Regions from separate parts of the Homo sapiens genome. Here region 2 is linked to region 1. A link means that fine-mapping ties the variant in region 1 to the expression of a gene that starts in the linked region. Tissue or cell type: prefrontal cortex. Region 1 holds a variant in brackets; the other region holds the start of a gene. All regions are shown on one strand. Distances are from middle to middle.

Region 1 (10,322 bases):
ACTGAGCTGGGGATAATGACATACCACTGCTTGCAAATCTCTCAGCCTCAGCCAGTCTCATCTTTGTAATAAGAAAAAAATCCTTGAGGAAGCTTTTTACCAAATCGCATCTTGACCATTAAATCTTTCTTGAAGAAGGTCATTTAATTTTATGGAAAGAAATGAAAAATTAAAATGGCATAAGCAGAAATAGTCCTGATCTGGAAATCAGAAAACTGACGATTCTAGTTCTAGTCCTGTGGCCTTGGCAAGAGGGAAACTTGGGTCTCAGTTTCCCCCTCTGGAAAAGGGGGATGTTGGGATGGGGGGCGTTGTTCTCATTCCCCCACCGTTGATGAAAATGGAGGTCTATTATGGTGTTGTGCGTCAGAACACCAAGTTAAAACACGGACACACACACACACACACACACACAGAGACACACAAAACATTTGATCCTTCAGCACTTCCTCTGAGAAAAAGAGACCAAATGATGCATACGAGGGTCTTCTGCCTCCATTACAACATGTAATCATTTGGATGATTAGCTAAAAGCAATTATAGAATTATAGTTGACAAATTGAAAACGCTAAGCCCAGTGGTCTCTTGCAACTGAGCCTCATTTAAATGTGCATTGTGTTGAATGGAGCCTCATTTAAATGGTCCATCTTAGCCAGGTTACGGAACTGAAGTGGAGAACCACACAGTTACCCCGAGCATTCAGGACAATCCACAGAGCTAATTTGGACAATTGGACAAATGATTATTTTCTTTTGCCTCAACTGACCAGATAATTGTACACAAGTCTCTGCCATTTGACTCCATGGAATGTCTCTTTGTGTAGTAAGAAAGCCTGGCCATAGACTGGTACCATGACGTCTGCCCGAGGGTGGCATGGAGTTGGGGACAAGACACACGCAGCTGACACCCACCATCTAACTCCGAGTCCTAAATCAGAAGCACTTTCATACGTGCTAAAAGTCTCTGCTTGCACCCAGGGTTCTCATTAGTTCCTTCTAATACCCATCACTTGGGAGGAGGTTGTTTTCAAAACAGAATTAAAACCATCAGGCAGCAAGGTTAGAAGTGGCATCTGGGTGGTCAAGAAAATTAGTGTTTTTTTTTTTTTTGAGACGGAGTCTTGCTCTGTTGCCCAGGCTGGAGTGCAGTGGTGCAATCTTGGCTCACTGCAAGCTCCGCCTCCAGGGTTCACGCCATTCTCCTGCCTCAGCCTCCCGAGCAGCTGGGACTACAGGTGCCTGCCATAACGGCCTGCTAATTTTTTGTATTTTTAGTAGAGATGGGATTTCACCGCATTAGCCAGGATGGCTTGATCTCCTGACCTCGTGATCTGCCTGCCTCGGCCTCCCAAAGTGCTGGGATTACAGGTGTGAGCCACCACGCCCGGCTTTTTTTTTTTTTTAGACGGAGTCTCGCTCTGTTGCCCAGGCTAGAGTGCAGTGGCACAATCTCGGCTTACTGCAACCTCTGCCTCCTGGGTTCAAGCAATTCTCCTGCCTCAGCCTCCCTGGTAGCTGGGTTTACAGGCGTGTGCCACCACACCCAGCTAATTTTTATATTTTAGTAGAGACGGGGTTTCACTATGTTGGCCAGGCTGGTCTCAAACTCCTGACCTCAAGCGATCCACCTGCCTTGGCCTCCCAAAGTGCTGGGATTATAGGCATGAGCCACTGCACCCGGCCAAGAAAATTAGTTTTTAAGAGCTAATATACGCCAAGATATACAATTCTAGGCATGCATTTATGTGCATGCACAGTGCTAGGTTCTGAAATGTAGTTCATGTTGGATGAACCAGGCCTGCCTACCTAAATCTTAGAAGGAATGGAAACTTACCATAACTAATCGATGAATTAGAACCACAGAGAAGCAGGAAGTCTTTGTGATGAGCTGTCTTCTCTACACCCAACTAGGGACATCCCTTCTGTGAAAAGATCTCTCCACATGGTCCCACATGGCTTGACTAGAGTAAGGGATGCTGATCACAATTAAGGCCCCATGTAGAATGACATGCTATCCTATTAGATTTAGATAGAAATGGTGCTAGGCTAGGTAAATTTTGTTGTGGCTACGTAACTATGGCAGACGGACCAGGAAGGATTCTAGATTGCTCAAACGTTGGATCAGGATCAGACTTCTTATAGGATGGTTGCTAAATTTCACAGAGGAAATCCATATCCAGCCTGTTTACCTGCTGTCAAAGTGAGCATTCAAAGGGACACCCCAGTGGCTCCCCACTTCCAGGCCTCTTGGCAAGTCATGCCTCCAAGTCATTGGTGGCATCCTGCAGCTCTCCACTGACAGCAATGCTTCTGCAGACTGCGTCTGCATACTCTTGTAGTGCTGGTTCAAGACTGGGCCACCAAAGACTCAGCTGAGAACATAACCCAAGAGGTCACCAAAGAGGTGTTGCCGCCTTTATGTGGTCCCCTTCGGGATGGAGGATTTCTTCAATGTTATTAAATAGCATTGCCGGTCAGAATATTCTTGAACCCTATGGCAAACGTCTCTCCCTCGAGAGTGGATTTGATTCTTGGACAGAGCCAGTGGCCAACATGCGAGTTGGGGAAATGTAATTTCTTAACAAAAAACACGGTGAGAGTGCAAGAGGAGGAGGTTGTTTCTTTTGTGTGGTTTGTTGACAGGCTCTGAAGGGTTCTGCTGTTGAGTCGCCGCAACACCTCAGGACCAAACGCCAAGGGTGCCAAAGAGACCTGGCATGACAGCTGCTATTTTTTGTTTGTATAGGTTCTGGTGATGAAACCACATACCCCTACCATCACTCAGGTCCACATCTCCCACCAGCAAAACAAATGCATCAAAGTCAAGTTTCAGGACAAAGGTCCTCCTCGGAGGACCCCAGGACAGGCACAATCAAGGGGAAACATAGTCTTGGCTTTGAGTTAAACTGGCAGACACTTGTCTCTCAAGTTTTTGGTGTAACAGAGTAGGAAACAAAATCATTTAGAAAGTCAAGTCTCTTACAGCCTGTGTGTAAGAATTGCTTCTCAACAAGGCACATCACAGTTTTATTTGGAGATTTCCAAATGTTTCTTGGTATGTATATAAAGCATATATTTTCATAAGAAAAATACTTATCTGCCTTTTAGGCAGTTGTTCTTTTTGTATATCAGATAGTAAATAGATTGTCCCTTTGAAAGCATCCATTAGATAGATCTACTTTCGGACACTGAGGCAAAGGCCTCAGGCACAAAACAGAGTCAGGGGCCCAGAGGATCACAAAACTGGCCAAGCCCTCCCCTAACACAAATGCACTGGAAGAAAACATGAACCCATTGTTAAAATTAATACTAGGATTGCAGGATGTTCTTTAATCTGCGTGATTGCTTTATTGTACAAAAAGTTTCCAGTAACAGTAAATTGGTTTTAAAAAAGGACAAAAAAGTCATTTTGGATAGAAGTGCTTCACTAATTGCTTTATTTAAGCATACAAGAAAAAAAGTTTTATCTGACCAATTACGTTGGAAGGGTTTTATTACCTTTAAGAAGCCATTAGCTAGGATAAAACACTGAAAGCACTTGTGTCAAAACAAATAAATAATGTAAATAACGCTCTCTCAATTAGCAGAGAAAACAGTGAATCCGTTAAATCAGAGACACACATCACTTCACAAGCATGGCCCAGCCAGCACCACCACCCCCAAAACGAACAAAACAAGAGACAGCAGTTTTCAGTTACAATCTTGGGAAAGATCAGGAGCTTTGGAAAACGCGTGGTAAACATGTCTGTTTCTCCTTCTACCTCCACTCAACCTGAGCTGCACCCGGACACTTTAAAGGAGGCATGTGTCCAGAGGCTGCATCCAGGGATGCCCAGAGGGAGCCTGCCCTGCTAGGCCTCCTCTCAGAGGGCGCATCCCAGGCAGAGGAGACTGGCCTGGGTGATCGTTACCTCCACGGCCCAGTAGAGTGTGGAAAAACATGAGGTGCCCACAGACAATGGCTGCCAGCGAGTAAAGGGAAAGAAACCCTGAGGTACCATGATTCTTTTCTCTTACTTCCTCAAATGCTACTGATCTCTCCCCAAGTACAGGCTCAACAGAAAAATACAGTGGTTTGAGGACCCCAAGAAGTCAGCACACAGGCCAGGGGCCAGCTCCAGGCTGGGTCTGTCTCTCCCACCTTGGGAAACCCAGCGCTAAAACAATTTTTTTTTTTTTTTTTT[G/TTTG]AGACGGAGCCTCGCTCTGTCACCCAGGCTGGAGTGCAGTGGTGTGATCTCGGCTCACTGCAACCTCTGCCTCCCGGGTTCAAGCTATTCTCCTGCCTCAGCCTCTTGAGTAGCTGGGATTACAGGCGTGTCCCACCCGGCTAATTTTTGTATTTTTTGTAGAGACGGGGTTTCACCATGTTGGCTAGGCTGGTCTCGAACTCCTGACCTCGTGACCGCCTTGGCCTCTCAAAGTCTGGGATTACAGGCGTGAGCCACCGAGCCCAGCCCCTCCTTAAAACAGTTTCTAATCAGATCCGTTATTTTACCCAAATGGGTTGAGGGAACAAAAACCAACCCTCATCACCCTATTTGGTGAAAATAAATATAAAAAAAGATGATCCTCTCTTAAAGGGTCACTTTCCTTCAGGGGTTTGTAAGGCTCAGCACTTTAAAAAGCTTGAACAGAAGTCCGGTATTGCCACTGTGGACTGTTTTTGAGGCAAGTTCCCTAATGTGGACAGCCCCACACCTAAGAGCAGCAGATCTAACTTGGAACGTCTCAACCATGGGTTAAAATCAGATGGGATGAAAGAACACCTGCAGTGACTCTCAACAGCTACGGAAGTCTCACATTGCAGGGCTGACTGATGAGGTGCTGGCTTCTTATTCTCCGGCCCTCTTTCCTAAGCAATGTTTGTCAGGGAATACCAGGTCCGCTTCCTGAAATGCCAGGGCCCCTCTAGGACCTTATCATTCCACAGCCACATCAGTAATAGGAAAACCACCAATGGCTACCTGGAGGTGGCACCAACTTGGAAAGGGAAGGCTGGGCAGGGGTTTGGACACTAAGCCCATGAGCTGTTTGGACAACTTCAATCTCTGGAATTGAGTTTAAATTTCTGTAAACAACTTTAAAGTCAACTCTAGAGAGACATTTTGTGTGACTGGTCCAAATAAAACAGCACATTTAATGAGGTCATATTCTTCTTAAACTTTTTAAGAGAAGCAAAAACAATGGAAAAGCCATTAAAATTTACACAAAGACCATTAAAACTCTACTAGTGTCAATTAAAACAAAGCCAATAAAACATGAACAACTTCAAAGTTACCATCACTTTCCACACTGTTCTACAGTTATAGGAATATATTCAAGCACCATATTGATAATAGGTAGGTAAACGATGAAGTCCTACTTTGGCGGTCTGACCCACGCTCACACAAACGAGGAGCTTCCTAGTCAAGATGCCCCCAGTCCTTGGCAATGTGCCTGCTTCCTGGGCATTGCTCAGTGGCAATGGAAGAGCCAATAAATCAAATCGCTGGTGGAATATTTTACTTTGAAATGGAGTGATGTTTGGTTAATAATTTGAGATCCACTAATCCTAAATGGGGTGACCCATTTAAAATGGCCTCTGTGTAAATTCACAGTTCATTAAATAGAGTCTGGTTTGAACAGGTCATTATGTAGTTAGTATATAAGTAATGGATTGAGCAAGGATGGCTGGGGATACCCATGGGGACACACTGGCTGAGTCTGGTGGCTTTCATAACACTGTCAAGCTTTCTTTTAATGTGAGATTCATTTAAATCACCAACTTAAATTTAGGTGGTTTTGCTTAGTAACCTCTTTTGGTTTACAGTAGAAAATGCAGTGCAAAAATTTTAAATGAGGAATATTCCATTTACAATTAATTTAAAACTTATGAAGCTGTTTTAACTGGCCCATCTAAATGTGTTAATTAACATCAATGATGGTTTCTTATTTTTCACACTTTGTTACTCTGATCATTAACAGTGATGGAAAAGCTAAATTAAGTTAATGGGGAACGGATTATAAATTCTTAAAGGACTTCTTAGTTTGTTTTCAACTGGAAAATATATAGAGAAAGATGAAGGGGCATTTTTGCCTCTACTCATCAATTTTTGGTACCAAATTTCTTAAAAACCAGATGGTTTAAAGAAAATTTTTCCAAAAATTATGTTAACATTCTGCTCAGACATGGCTGCTAAAAAAATAGCATATACACATATAATACTGAACAGCTTCTGCAGTGCCTGTAAACTCTCAGCTCATTTTCTCTTTCTAAAAAAAATATATATTATAACTGATCCCAGAACTCAATCTCTATTGTGCAGCAGTATCAAAGGTCCTTAAATTCTCAACAATGAAGGAAAAACAAAAACCCATTCCCCGGACCGCTTGAGCAGGACTAGGGAAGGAGGAGTCCGTGGATGCAAAGGTTCGCTGCCCCGACGCCCTCAGATTCCTCGAGGCTGCACCTCTGCGGGCAGCTGGCGGGGCGCAGGCCAAGCCCCTCACACCCGGGAGATCCACACGCGCGGCACACACGAAAACCCAATGCCACTTATCGAGACTTCACGCCAACGAGGACAACAATGAGCACAATGATGATGACAAATAATATTAAAATCACAAGCATCTTCCGATTCTTCTTTTGATACTGTTCTGCCTACAAAAAGAGGAGGGAAAAAAGGCCGTCATTTTCCCCAAAATCCCAAATCAAGTCCCACTCGTTTCCAGAATGAGGCTTCCAGATCTCTCTGCACAGTGACTGAGGTCTCTGCTACAGGCTACATGATTGTAATCCCTCCAATCAATCCCACGGAATTCAATCACCAGGAGTGGAAGAGCCCCATGATCCTGGTGCTGCTTATTTACCCTGGACGTGGAAATGGATTTGTTGGAAACCTACTACTAAGACAAAGCCTGACAGGGAAGTGAAAGCTCATGCTTCCGGGTGCAGCTGGGCCTGCTTCTCCCGGCTTTTCCTCCTGCAGGCCGTGGCAAGTGCCCCTGCAGCACGGGTCGCCTGTTCCCGGTCCGTGTTCCTGGAGCGAATGCACAGTTCCTTCACCGCGGAAGGAAACAACGGGCTGGAGGACCGTACCTGGCAGGTAGGCAACAGACACCCGGAAGAGGCCCCATTTCGACCTCCCCTAAATTTGGAAACAAAAACTCATCCTTTGAAATAAAAACAGACACGTGTGCCCCATGGATGTCATATGCAGAAAGATCCCTCTGAGGCGCGTCCTCCCAGTGCCGCTAACGATACAGCAAAGGAGCCCTCCAAGCTCAATCTGGGGACGAGGCTGCACCCTGCACATCTCTTCACCTTAACACCGCATCCTGGAAGCTCGGCAGGAGCGGGAACTCCATCATGCCTGCTAGAGAAATGCCAAAGGGCCCCACCTGGCTGGCGAAAGACGCAGAGCACTGAGAAAGGAGAGCCAGAGGACAGCAGAGTTCAGAGGGCGCCGGGAGGCACGTCCAGGGAGAGCATGCGCTGCCTCTTCCAGACCTTGCTATGGCACAGGAGGGAGGAGGAGACAGCGGGAAGGCAGCCCTGGCGAGAATGGCAATCTCTCCTGCTCCATCCCCCGCGGTGGGCTTGTTTCCTAAGTGAGCCTGCCCGCCCACCTGGAGGAGCCCCTCATCCACCAGGAGGAAACATCAGGCACGGGGACAGCACCGAGAGTCCGGTCATGGGGAGCAGCTCCCGACGCTCAATCACCCTTAGACTAGCCGACTGCCGAGCACGCGCGTGCTGCCTACAGCCTTGTGGCTGGAGGGAAGATGGAGCACGCTGACTTTTCTAATAAGTAACCCAGAACACCAGGGAAGCCAATACTAAATAATATACTGTAAAACCTCTCAAAATGATTTATAAAGTAGAACCTAAAACAAAATTTTTAGTTCCCACTAGATTTGCTCACTCCCGCAGAGAAAGCTTTTCCTTTTATCTGTGTTATATTACAAAACATATTTCACTAGTTTTTATTTAAGAAACTTCAAAACCAATGCATAATTCAGCAGCACATCAAAACCTGGGTATTACAGAGTGAGAAACTTAAGTTAGTTTTCACTTTTAATAGACAGGGCTTGGCAACCAAATTAATCTAAATGCTTAAAAAAACCCTGCATAGACAAGGTCAGACTTCTCTTCCCACCACAGGCTGGAGTCTCATATCCACCTACACATGGCAACAAGCCCCCTGAAAAGACAGCTCAGGGCTTCTGGTTAGACTAGTGCAAGGGCTGACTTTTTGTAAACCCAATACTGCTATTAAATGGGGCGATCTCTGGTATAGGAAGCGACTGATTTCAGAAAAATGGTAGAGTAGTCCAACAGTGAATTGGCAAAACACTCATTATATGGCTAGAAACTCCACTGGGTCTCAAAGATACAAGGAAATGGATATTATTTAATTTGTGAAGTATTGTTATATTCCTTTTAAAGAAAATACGTAACCAATTATATATGAGAGTCTCAGCCGTTTATGCATGTTTCTTATAACCGATAAGATTCCTAAGATGCTTTCCATCTATTTTTTTAAAAGAGAATATCATAAAAACATCCCTGAAACAGCTACCTTATTAGCACAGAATAAAAGAATTACTACTCTCACTTCAACAAACTTCTCTTTTCTCAAGGTAATACAGATATGCTGTGGTAATTAAAGAGAAGATTAGATTTTTATCTTCTGCAGAATGATTCTCCATCAGCAATTCATCAGGAATGTATCACAAGAGAGGCCCAAGTCAACGGCAACAAGCAGACAGATTTTCAACACATATTTTAGCAAATGCCCAATTGATTTCCTAAAACAAGAAGCATTAGAAAAGAATGAAATATTTTCTAAAAGAAAGAACTCCAATCTCTTTAGAATTTACTGTCACAAAAAGGAGTTCTTAGCAATTTTGGATTTAAGTGTGAGATACACCTGGAATCATTAACTGCAATAAAACGGCAACAGCCCCCACAATTGGCTTTAAATGAAATGATGAATCCCTTTTTACACTACTGTATTGAGAGTGGACAACACAAGAATGCTGAAGATCGTTATGGTGGAAAAGAACCCTCTTACCAATTCTTGATTATTTGAAAATAGTTCCTAAGATTCCCAAGTCTTGAAAGACATATTACCTTGTGAAGCTGTTTCAAACCATCTTCAGTTTTGATACAGGACTGTTCAACGTTATAGTCAATTCTGTCAAGGACTGTACCCTAGGTAATAAATGACAGTTACAGACAATCAACAATAGCAACTGGGAAAACTGAACGTCAAAAATGAGATATGCAAATTACAGACATCATCATCCATAAGATGATGTTTTCCTTCCCTGTGTGCTGCAGGTACACACGGAGGGCTCTGGAGTTCACCCTCAAGCAGTGTCAGGAGCTCGATGGCAGAATGCTGGTTAGTGCCATCACATCTAGCTCACGAGAAAGAAGTACTGACAGACTGAGGTTTCCTTATTGGTTTCAGCTGCCATAGAAATGCCATATTCGGACTTCCTGGGGCCCTAAGAAATCTATGGTCCAGTGGACAGAGGCTCTGAGCAGCACAGAAGCTCTGCGCCCATTTGCTGCCTACGTACTTGGATTCAAGTAAGCAGAGAACACCAGGTAAGCTCGCCCCTGTCATAAGTAGACCTGCAAATTGACTATCACGTCTATAAACGTGGATCCACATCTCTATGGGTCAGAGCAGGAAATGGTAAACTCCAGTCTACCACCTAAAATTAAAAATTTGGACTCAAGGGGAAGATGTTTAATTGTTTAATCTCTTAAACAATTAAATTGGAAGACGGGGACACTGGGCTATGAGGAAGAACAGAGCTTTTATTGGAAACATGCTGGATTAGAAGAGATAGCAGTTCACTGGGAACCACTGGAGTAATTAATGTAACTGGATCTTCCAGAGCCTGAACACTCCATTCTGCAGTTGGTTTCAGGGGGATCAGGACCCAAATCCCTGCTGGCAAGATAATAAAATGCCCTAATCAGATTTTAACGGTGAACAACAATTTAATTCTACTTGAACGCTAGTGGTTCCAATTGCCATTACACAATAACCTGCCAAAATTAGAAGGGAAATCTTCTATAGCGTCAGAATCATTGCTGAGCTCGGTCAGAGTCAACTAGGTCTCTAGAGTAGGGTGCTCACATGAGTACCCTCGAGGCATGGGAAGAGAATATTAGAACTTCATTTATCAAAAAAAGATTTATTAATATTCTTATAGGGAATGACAGTAGCCTATGTATATAATTTGTAAATACACACATATACAGGCTGAGTATCCCTTATCTGAAAAGCTTGAGACTAGAAGTGTTTTGGATTTGGGATTTTTTTT
Region 2 (10,322 bases), 25 kb after region 1:
ATCACCTTCTAAATCTTTATAATGTCTAAATCTAGGTTTTTGACCTTCCAATGGCATGCAATCAAGCAAACACTGAAAACTCCAAGTAGCATGTGGAATTTATAGTCTAAAGAACTTTCTACATAAAACTGAAAAATAAGTGGAAACCCATCTGTGTTTACTCAGGAAGTCTGGAAAAGTTGAGCAAAATGAGTTGGAAACACAGGTCTATGCTATAGTGATATTTACTTTATTTCCGTTACTGCCAAAATAAAAGTTTGCTTCACTTTTATCCAACAAAGTACCCTTATTCTCAAAGTAAGCCTCACTGCTCCCATGGAATCTTTAAAAGCAGAAAAGCAAGTAGATCTAAAGAGAAATATATAATGATTTCATACTTGGATTCTAAAGACAGAGAACTAATTTTCCAACAGACTCAGCTTGTACTAAAACTTAGAATCTTCAATCTGCAAGTTAAAATTGACTATGTAAGGTTCATAAAGTGAGATAAAGAAAGATGCTAGCCTATTGCAAGAAAAAAAATTGTTTTAAAACAATAGGTCCTTCCATTTTCCAGGATCTGCAGCACAAGTTCTGAAAATGCAGCCAACACCAGAGTGGCCCAGGAGGTGAGCACGGGGCTCTGAAGCCAGATTTGCCAGAGTTCCAATCACAGCCCCCAGCCATCAGGTGGGTGACACTGGGCCAGTTTCCTACCTCCTCTAAAATCTGTTTCCTTATCTGTATCTGAGAAAAACAATAGTACTTATTTGATAGAGCACTGTGAAGATGAGCTGAGCTTACACACGGAAAGGGCTTAGCCCAGAGCCAGGCACAAAGTAAACTCTCCATAAATCTTAGCTAATATTGTAGTCAAGCCTGAATAAGGACCTCAGGTTTCTTATAACCATAGTTAATCCTTAATTTCCTTTTTCCTAAAGCACACATTTTATTAAAAATAATGTGCTTATGTTTCAAACTAATCTAAGACCAATTAACGCTAGCTTCCAATTATAGATTATGCATTATTTTAAAGCAGAGTATAGATTAGGCAGTAAACACTAACAAAGTAGCTCCAACCCCTATATTAGATCCATTCCCGGAGATCGAAGGAAACCACACAAATCCATACAGAATTTCATCAGATCAGAAGAGCATCTCAATATCTACCTTTCATTCATTTCTTTATGACTTTACAATTTGTTTTGAATAATTGTTTAGCTTCATAAATCCATTTCAGTTTCCTAAAGCCAAGCTGCTTGAATGAGTTGCTACCTTAAAACCTGCACTTGGCTGGCATAATAATGTGAAAGTTACTTTTGCACAGTACTGGGGCTACTTCTAAGGATTTCTGTCAGTAACCTTGGACTGACAGCTACAACACTGTTGACTATGAATTTCTCCTTTTCAAATTAAAGCTAAAGTCAGGAGAAACAATGTATTAAAACAGAACTTGAGAAAATACTGTTGAATCGATAGGGCTGCTGGAAATCACCTAACCCAAACCCCTCAGTTTACAAATGAGGCAAAAAATGTCCGAAAAGATTAAAGGCTTGCCTAAGGACACACTCTGAGCCTGCAGCAGAACAGGACTTAGGCCTCAATTCTCAGATTCAATTCTCAGTGCTCTTTCCTTTATTTCATGCTGCCCTGAGGCATGAACGTGATGGGGCACTCAAAACTGAGGCCAAAGTAAAATGCATGGGAAATACGACTGTATTTTGTTAGGAGTGCATAAAGTCAAACCTGTCTGTTTTTTTACAATTAGTTTTACTAACTTTAATACAACTAAGAACACAAAAAAGTAGAATTTTGCTCAGTTCTGGATGCTGAAATCTAAAAAGGATACAGAAAAACTAAACATCATTTATAGGAAAAAAGCATAACCACTCTGAGCCGGGAATGCTAGGCCTGGAAAGAATTCTGGGTAACAAGGCTGCAGGGTTACCAGACAGAAGGAAGACCCGAAGGAACAGAACTAAAAGCAGGACCCCAGGACACAAATAGTTGGGATTAACAGGCAAAGACTTTTTAGTGGTAAAAATCATGGAGCTGCTGGCATTTTCCATCATTGTCATACACCATGGCCAAATAAGATAGGCATGAGGGGTTATCACAAATGGGGACATTAGGCCAAATGACCTTTAGGTTCCTTCTGGCCCTTGAGGCTTTGTGTTTATCTGGTCACTGCGTATCCTCCTTAAATTCCTGTTTATTTGACATATTTGCCTGAATGCTGCAAAACCCTGTATGCACGCACAGGGACACACAATAACCCCACTACAACAACCAAATTCTAGTTTTTTCCCTCAAACTAGGATGCAAAAAATGCATGTTTAAATTTTTTGAATGGCATGGCTTTAGGTGTGCTTTGCTTTGAGGTGTATGATACACACTACTCTGCAATTAATTTCTGCAGCTTTTTCCTGAAATAAGATGTCAAAATTCAGGATTACAATTTTTTTTTTAAAAAGTCTGTTATTTTAGGTGTATTTTTAGTTGGTATCAAATGCATCAAGATCAAAGTCTACAGCTTTTTCTTCTAATTGGAAACTTAAAATTCCAGGTTATTATTTTTTAAATTAAGTTAAACTTAGGTTTAATTTCTTCCTTTCAAATTGCCTGAGTGTTAGACATGTATTTACAAATTGCCTCTTTTTAACTGTTTTACTTTACTATAACAAATATACTTACTTTAAGTTTCTATTTAAAAATTTTCAAACATGCAGAAAAGCCTACAAAATGGTAAAATGTCGCACACATACTCATCACTAGACTTAACAATGAGTAACAATTTGCCTTATTTGCTTCCTCTATTTTTGGAGGGGTTTAAGGACTTAGGTAAGATGCCTTGACATTTCACCACTAAACATTTCAGTAGGCATCTCTAATAAAATTAGCAAATGTAATGTATTATAATTAATTCCTTAATGTCACCTAATACCTAGTCCATATTCAAAATTTGACAGATACGATTTTGTTTGGTTTGCTACATGGCTTTGAAATTTACAAGTCAGAAACAAGGCTTTAAATTTTTTGTGAGCTAGATATGCAGTGAAAAGCATTGCTAAGAGTTACTCAATAGATTTTACAAATTGTGTTAAACATGGCTTTTGCTTCAAAATGTTTATAAAGCTTTTCCAACTTCCAGAAAAGTTGAAAAAATCATAACCTCTATTTAGTCTTGTTAGCATTTCGCCGTACTGTGTGCAGAATAGATTTTGTTACGAATCACCTGTAAGCAAAGTGAAGATGTAACACTTCAACCCTAAATACTTCAGAAATTTATGACATGCCATTTTTTAACACAATTAAAATATATAAATCTGTGTTTTATTTTTAAATTTGAATTCAGGCAAACTATGTTTGTTAGACTGCAAAACCTATTTTTGAGATAGTATGGATTGACTATAAGGATATTTTAAATGATATGACTGCTTTCAATGATCTGAGAAAGATTTTAAATGGTCAGACTAATATAAATATTAACATTTTCAATGGTATGACATTTAGAAAACATTTTTTAACGTTCTTAGAAATGTATTTTTAGTTGGGTTTAGAAATCTATTTTCAAAAAACTGTGAGTTAGCTAAATGTATCTGTATATACCCTGACATATCTATTTTTCCAAACTGTATACGTTAACTATCCATTTTTAATTATTCTGCTTAGCTTAAATATTTTTTAAAATTGCCTAACTTAGAAAATAATTTTCTAAAGTGGTCTGATTCAGAGATGCACTTTTAAAAAGCTTCCCGTCTCAGATACTAGGTTTTTAAACTGTCTGACTTAATCGGGAAAAAAAAAAAAACCCTCATGTTACCCAAAGGTTCAGGGTATTTTGAACCTTAATGATTAAAAATTGAAAAATAAACAATATGTTTTTCAATTAAAACTGATACCTTAGAAATCTTAATATGAGTTTCAGTAGTTTTTGAGGCAGCACAAAATCAAGTCATTTAAGGAACATGCAGTTCTTATTTAACATTACTGAAGTTCCATTAAGGAATTGAATTCATCCAATTTCTACTCGATTTCTTGGATTATTTCTTCTTCAAAATTAGCGCTAGAATTAGCCTGTTTCTATGCTACCAGACATCTTTACATTTATTTCAATATAATGTAATTCCTTTCCGTTTATAAATGTAAAAAAAACCCTTCAACTTCTTAATTAACTGAAATCTCACACACACTCTGTCCCTAGTTCTAGGCTGTTTGACCTGAGTTTACATGCTTTTATTCCTGAAACCGCTCACACGGCTTAAAATGACTTTTCTATCAGTTATATGGCCAAAGACATTCTCCACCTGTGACTTACAAAAAGGAGAAACTGTCTTTGTAGACATGATAATCATGACATATGGCAAAATTTTCCTGAAGCATTTAGATAAAGCCATAAAGAAAAAAATAAACTGGCAATACAGTCCCTAAGAGGTGAAATGAATGTTCCAAAATTGCCTAATATCAAGTATAACCCCCAAGAATGTGGTCCTGGGATGGCTATTTCCCGCCTGTTCCAACGCTGCTTCTATTCCAACCTAGTCTGCCTACAGCAGGTAGCCTGAACTACAGCCAGTTTCATAACTTCACTTTTCAATTGAAGACATTACAGAGCTAACGATCACTGTCTGGTATAGATCATCCAGACTCGCCCCTTATTTAACAGAGCAGTAAACTGAGGCTCAGAAAGGGAAAAGTAGCCCCCATTAAAAACAAACCCCAAACAGTAATTTTTCCAGGACCACCCTTAAAAAACGCTACTGCTAGGCTAACTAAAGGTTGTGGTTAATTAAAAAAAAAAAGTGCTATTTTACGGGGTTAATTTTCACATATACCTCCTCAGGCTTTTTTTAAAAAGTTCGAATGGAGAGGAAAGCTTAATTTCCTGTCTGGGAAATGGAAAGTGAAGAGGCTAGCACCTTGAGTCTCACAAACGCAAGCCCCCAGGAAGAACAGTGAGGCAATTATTCACAGGGAACAAGGCCACACAGAGGGCTGCGGGGCCGTTAAAAGAAAACGGGCGGAAAAACAAAACAAAACAAAACAACAACACAACTCCCTCCTCTTTGAGGGGAGGGAGTCGTTCATTTTGCAAGGATTTGGGTCTACGATCCGGCGACCCAGCCCTTAGGACCAAACTGAGGCTCATTACTGGGGGGAGGGGAGCTTCAAACAAAACGAAACAAAAAGGCTTCAGAAAGGCCCAATGCTTCCCAATGTTAGCGTTAAAACATATGTAAATTACAGGCGGCCTGTAGCGCAGTGACGCCAAGGCGGGGGGTGCGGGGGGGGGGGTGCTGCGGAAGTGAGGAGAAGACCGGGCAGAGGTGGAGCTGCGGCCTCACAGCACCGCTTCTTCCTCATCCAGGGCTACAGATGCCCCCTGACTCTAGCCAAGAGATCTTATTATTCTTAGTCTTATTATTCTTATCTTCTCTTTTTAAACAGAGAGACAGACAGAGACAGACAAACAGGCAGAGCCGCAGTGCACACGGTCCGTGTGTCGGAGAGGCCGCCAGGAGACTCACCGCAGCAATGCTACGTGAATGCAGAGGGCTGGAGGTGATGTGACTACTCACTTGCTCGGCTAACAGCTGCCGGTTTTGGATGGAATTATTCCGCAACAACAAGAAAGCGTCGGTTAAACGCCTGGTGGCCATGTCTCACCCTTTGCGACCCCCCTCTCAGGGGCCCCCCGCCCACTTATATTCCTGATTTATTCACTTTCTTTCTCGTGGCCCGGCTGGCCCACCCTTTCACGGAAGCTTCTCGACAAGGCCTCAGGCCTCAAGCCAAAAAGATGCAGCTGTGCGCTTCGCCAAGGCGTAGAGACCCCTCCCCAAATAACTACCTAGGCTTTCCAATTGTCTGACTCCCCCTACCCAGGGCAGACTTCGATCTCTAAGCACTTGAATCCCCCCAATCCTTGCGTAGCGATCCAACGTCCCAGAGACCCCACCCCAATCCAACCTTGGATCTACAAGCGTCTAACTCGCCAATCCGGCTCTAGACTGGGAGGCCCTGAAGCCCCCTACTCCCTGAGACCCCCCGGAGGTCTCTGCTCTCTACCCCTAACTTTGGCTCGTAAGCGTCTAGGCCGTGCCCTGAGGTCTGGCTGTGACTCAGTTTCCGCACCAGAGGCCTGGCCTAGGCCCTCTTTGGACAACCGGAGCCAGGCTTGGGGCCTGGACTCGAGGGCGCCTGCAGCTCCCTTCTGGGGACTTGTCTGAACCTGCTGAGGCCCTGCCCGACCTCCTGACCCCTTCCTTTCCTGGACGGCCTGGTCCTCCACTGCCAGCAGGCTGCCGGCCTGCAGGAAGACAGCAGGGCCTGCCTCCCCGGCCTTCTCACTCCTCTTCTCCGGCTCCCTCCATCCCCGGATCTGACTGCAGCTCAGCCCCGGACCGTTTCCGTGCTGTGGTCCCGGGTTCTGGCGTTCCCCCCTGGCCCTCTTCCTGTCCGTCCCTCGCGAGTGCCCCCCTGCGACGCTCGCAAGCCTTGCTCGCAACGTTCCGGGCGCGGGAGCTCCCTGCACTCCTGCCCCGGGGCACGGGAGTGCTCCGCCCTCTCCCGGGGTGCTCCTCGGGCGCCCTGTTTCGCCTCCCCCAACTGGGTCCAGGCACTAGGAGCAGGCCAACGAGCAGGCCTGAGCCTGGGGAGCGTGGCCCCCAGGCTGCAAACCGCTGCCAGGGCCCTTGGTCGCTGAATTAGAGTGGAAGTTGCGCGGCAGGCAAATTTGGGCTCCCCAAGAACTGAAGTTTTGGGCGCGGGGAGTTGGAGCGGGAGAGGAAAAGTTGGAGACGACTGCCTCTGCAGGCCGAGCACGCTCTACTGCAGGCGGCGGCGCTCGCTTTTTTTTTTTTTTTTCCCACTCTGGAAAAAGATGTATCCGACAAACAACCACGAGGAAATAAAAGGAAAAAAAAAAAAAAAAAAGGAACAAGAACTCCAGGCAGCCTGGCCGCGCCGCCGCTGGCAGTCGGGGGTCGTCGGGGGCGCCCGCCCTCCCCAGCTGCCGCTTTCTGTAGGGGGCACTGCAGGGTCGTGGAATCTCAAGTGGAAAAGTTCCCCGAAAACTTTGACACCTCCCACCCCCCTCCCCGCGAAAAAAATCTCTGTTCCCTGCCTGGGCCCTGGCCCTGCGACCCCCGCGCCCCCCCGTGCCCCGGGCCGGGTTTTCCACGGTTGGCCGGGCCCAGGGCGCCCTAAGCACCTCGACTTGCCGCCCCGGGCCAGGTCGGCGGGGTTCGTGCAGGGGCTCCGTGGGGCCGCGTCGGGCAGGGGCCGCCCGGGCCCGAGCACGGCACCCACAAACAGGCTGGCGTCCCGCGACGGAGACCCGGGTCCGGCCCGGAGCCGCCCGGGAGGCTTGAGGCCAAGGGCCTGGCCCAGCGCGCGGCCGGAGCGGGTCGGGGGCGCAGAGCTGTGCGGCGGCGCCTTCCGGGCCCCGGGCCTGTGCAGGGCCGGCTTCCCCTTGCGGGGCGAGGCTGCGGGCCGGGCTGCGGTGCGGGGTTCCAACAAAGGACCGAGGCCCCAGAAGCGGCCCCCACGCGTCCTTTGTTTCTGCGTGGAACAAACTTTACACACGTGTGTGTTTTCCGAGGGTTTCCCGTGTGCTGAGCGCTTGCAAAGCGGAGTCGCGCCCGGGGAGACGCGAAGCCGGTGCCCGCGGCTCACCCAGGGACCCCAGCCAGACAGCGGCACCCGCGGGGCGCGTGCGGGACCCCCAGGCGACCGGGGGAAGCACCGGTAACCGCCCCCCACCCGTGCTTTTTCTCTCACGGAGAATGTTCCCGCGCGTTCGTTGTGCAACTAAAAATTAATGTGAAACATCCATTGAGGCAAATAACAAAATGCATCCAACGAAACCCACATAAAATCGAGAGAGCCGCGAGCAGGGCTGGGCGAGTTCACTGTGAGGACCGGCTCTGGCTTCCGCGCAGCGCGGAGAGCAGGGCGCTCGCCCGGGGACGCTTCGCAGCGGTGGAAGATTCGGGCGACAGGGGACTGGGTCGCCGCGCGGGCCGGGCTGGAGGCTGCAGGGACTTGCTGACAGGCCATCCAAAGACAGAGAGGCCCTGGGGAGGGAAATTCGGGGAGCCCGTGTGCTTAGCGTAGCGCCCCGGGAAATATTTGCCCAATAAGGGAGAGTTTGTCCCCACACTGCGGCAGAACCCCCCTGCGAGCTCTGACCCCAGCAGCACGGCCAAGCCCCCCCAACCCCGCTCCCCCCTTTAGGGGACAGGTATTTGTAAATAACAACTGAGCTGGTCGTCGGTAGGAGAATCAGATTAGAAACATGGTCCCCACTCTCTTCCTATCTCCCCAGCACTCATCACCTCACAAAGCAGGGGGGGACCTGTTTACTTTTCCTGGCGCTCTCCCCCAGGCTAGAACGTGATCTTCTTCCTACGCAGGGACAGTGTTTTATTCATCTTTGTACCCACTGCCATCTCATCTGGCTTGGAACAGGCTCCGGATAAATATTTTTTAAATATGTGCATGAATTAATGAGAGACTCGAGATTTAGTCCCCAAACTCTCTGACCTCCCTCGAGTGACTTTAAGCCTTTAGAGCCCTTATCTGTTAAGAAAAAAAGAAAAAAATGTGGGTTTTTCGTAATCCTCGTAATCCGCGCCCTGTCTACTTCTCTGGGGTTATTGTGAAGATCAAATAAGGTAAGTGAAAACTCTTTGTAAACTACCAGGTGCTGAGCAAATATTATATAGGATGGTTATTCATTCATTCCCTCCGTTCAGGAAGCTTAGCAAAGTAATTCCTGGTCTTGTGTTTCAGCAGATGGTGGTCGCCTTTCCTGGTCAGTCTTAAATATTTATTACAGGACAATCTCATTCTTACATTTAGGAGATCAATCAAGCTTCCATTTCTTTGAGCGAAATGAACACTGCTTGCACACAAATAATGGAAGAAAAATCCTGGTATTCCCAAAACAGCCACCCCAAGCAACCCAAGAGCCTAACAGCGGGGAGGTCAGGAAAATCCAAGAAGTTGGCATAGCAGCCCAAAGGCAGCACCGTGCAGCTCTGACCAGGCCCCAAAGGCAGCACCGTGCAGCTCTGACCAGGCCCCAAAGGCAGCACGGTGCAGCTCTGACCAGGCCCCAAAGGCAGCACCGTGCAGCTCTGACCAGGCCCCAAAGGCAGCACCGTGCAGCTCTGACCAGGCCCCAAAGGCAGCACCGTGCAGCTCTGACCAGGCCCCAAAGGCAGCACCGTGCAGCTCTGACCAGGCCCCAAAGGCAGCACCGTGCAGCTCTGACCAGGCCCCAAAGGCAGCACCGTGCAGCTCTGACCAGGCCCCAAAGGCAGCACGGTGCAGCTCTAAGCAGGCTGTGTTTAGGTATGGGATTGTGTGCCTGAAATAGTGTTAACCAAGAGGGAGCCCAGAGAGGGCATGCACCCCTGGCTCCAGTCACGTCCATGGTCCATGTTCGCCCTGACCCACACTGGAAGGGAGTTGGGGAAGGATGTAAATCATTATATTTGAATGTTCCTTGGCTGTTTTATTTTCCTGTCAAGTGACTTAAGCTTGATTTTTTTTTTTTTTTAAAGCATTCCCCCATGGCCAAGTATGTGTTTCCTTGGAATTGAAATCTAGGTTGATGGTTTTACATTTTAAAAGCTTTCATTGTGACTCATTCTTGGCCTGGGCTAGGATTCGGTAATACTCCTCGGGCTTGGTGAGGCTCCGTGTCCTGTTTCTTGGGCTTCATACCCACTTTCTAACATTCTGCCAACGAATCCAATAAGTCACTTTTGGGGACAAGTGTTTCATTGTTTTCTTGTCATCTCATTCAGTGCAGGAGGAAGCCCCATTGAAGCCAGGCCATGGCTTGGGCAGGTGCAGGTTTTCAAGTACTGAGAGGGGATGGTTAGCTCAACAGGTCAGCAGTGGGACACACACCCTTTGGTGAAAACAATTTAAATGAGATAGGGCTCATGTAAGCCCTTATACAACCTCAGCATAGAGTAAGTGCGCCACAAATGGGCAATATGATTTATTACAGCAGTAGTCTTACTGTTGGAAAGCTCACGTGGGCTCTGCTCTCCCTGGAAGGCATCATAAACTCCAAAGAGAATGGCATGGTATTGAGAACTGAACACTTGGAAATCTAAGCACGTTTCCGAGCTTCTTGTTCTGGACCTTGGGAATCCAGATGTGTCTGCAGTGCACACTCATGTGGAAGAGGGGGCTAAACCATCTCAAAGACACCTTTTAACATTGGTCTTTCTCCCACCTATAGAAAGACAGATGGTTGTTTGCTTATCAAGCAGCAAAAGCCCCCAGGCCTAACATATGTCTCGTCTGCACAGATCTGACAG

Direction of the effects. Positions count from the first base shown, and alleles are read on the strand shown. Sizes are in standard deviations (SD) of each study's normalised expression.
With allele TTTG in place of G in region 1, the expression in prefrontal cortex of the gene that starts at base 6,363 in region 2 is higher (small effect, 0.29 SD a copy in ROSMAP).

What was found. PIP is the estimated chance that this variant, and not a neighbour inherited with it, causes the effect.
Region 2: it holds the start of STX16, and the variant in region 1 is fine-mapped to the expression of STX16 in prefrontal cortex (ROSMAP, PIP 0.90).

What each region holds. Positions count from the first base shown.
Region 1 is chr20:58,672,501-58,682,822 of GRCh38, reverse strand. It overlaps STX16 (syntaxin 16), which reads right to left. Exons shown (of 9, transcript NM_001001433.3): 8 at 9,112-9,192; 9 at 3,297-6,636. The coding sequence ends at 6,532. It overlaps STX16-NPEPL1 (STX16-NPEPL1 readthrough (NMD candidate)), which reads right to left. Exons shown (of 23, transcript NR_037945.1): 8 at 9,112-9,192. Among named protein-coding and RNA genes, the nearest start is that of NPEPL1, 15 kb to the left of the region's middle. RefSeq lists enhancers at 5,946-6,470, 6,471-6,996. The variant G/TTTG (reference allele first, on the strand shown) is at 4,184.
Region 2 is chr20:58,647,324-58,657,645 of GRCh38, reverse strand. It overlaps STX16 (syntaxin 16), which reads right to left and starts at 6,363. Exons shown (of 9, transcript NM_001001433.3): 1 at 5,508-6,363. The coding sequence starts at 5,639. It overlaps STX16-NPEPL1 (STX16-NPEPL1 readthrough (NMD candidate)), which reads right to left and starts at 6,393. Exons shown (of 23, transcript NR_037945.1): 1 at 5,508-6,393. It overlaps LOC107985410 (a long non-coding RNA gene), which reads left to right and starts at 8,011. Exons shown (of 3, transcript XR_005647058.2): 1 at 8,011-8,657. RefSeq lists enhancers at 4,994-5,497, 5,335-5,604, 8,634-9,171 and silencers at 7,101-7,460, 9,859-10,153.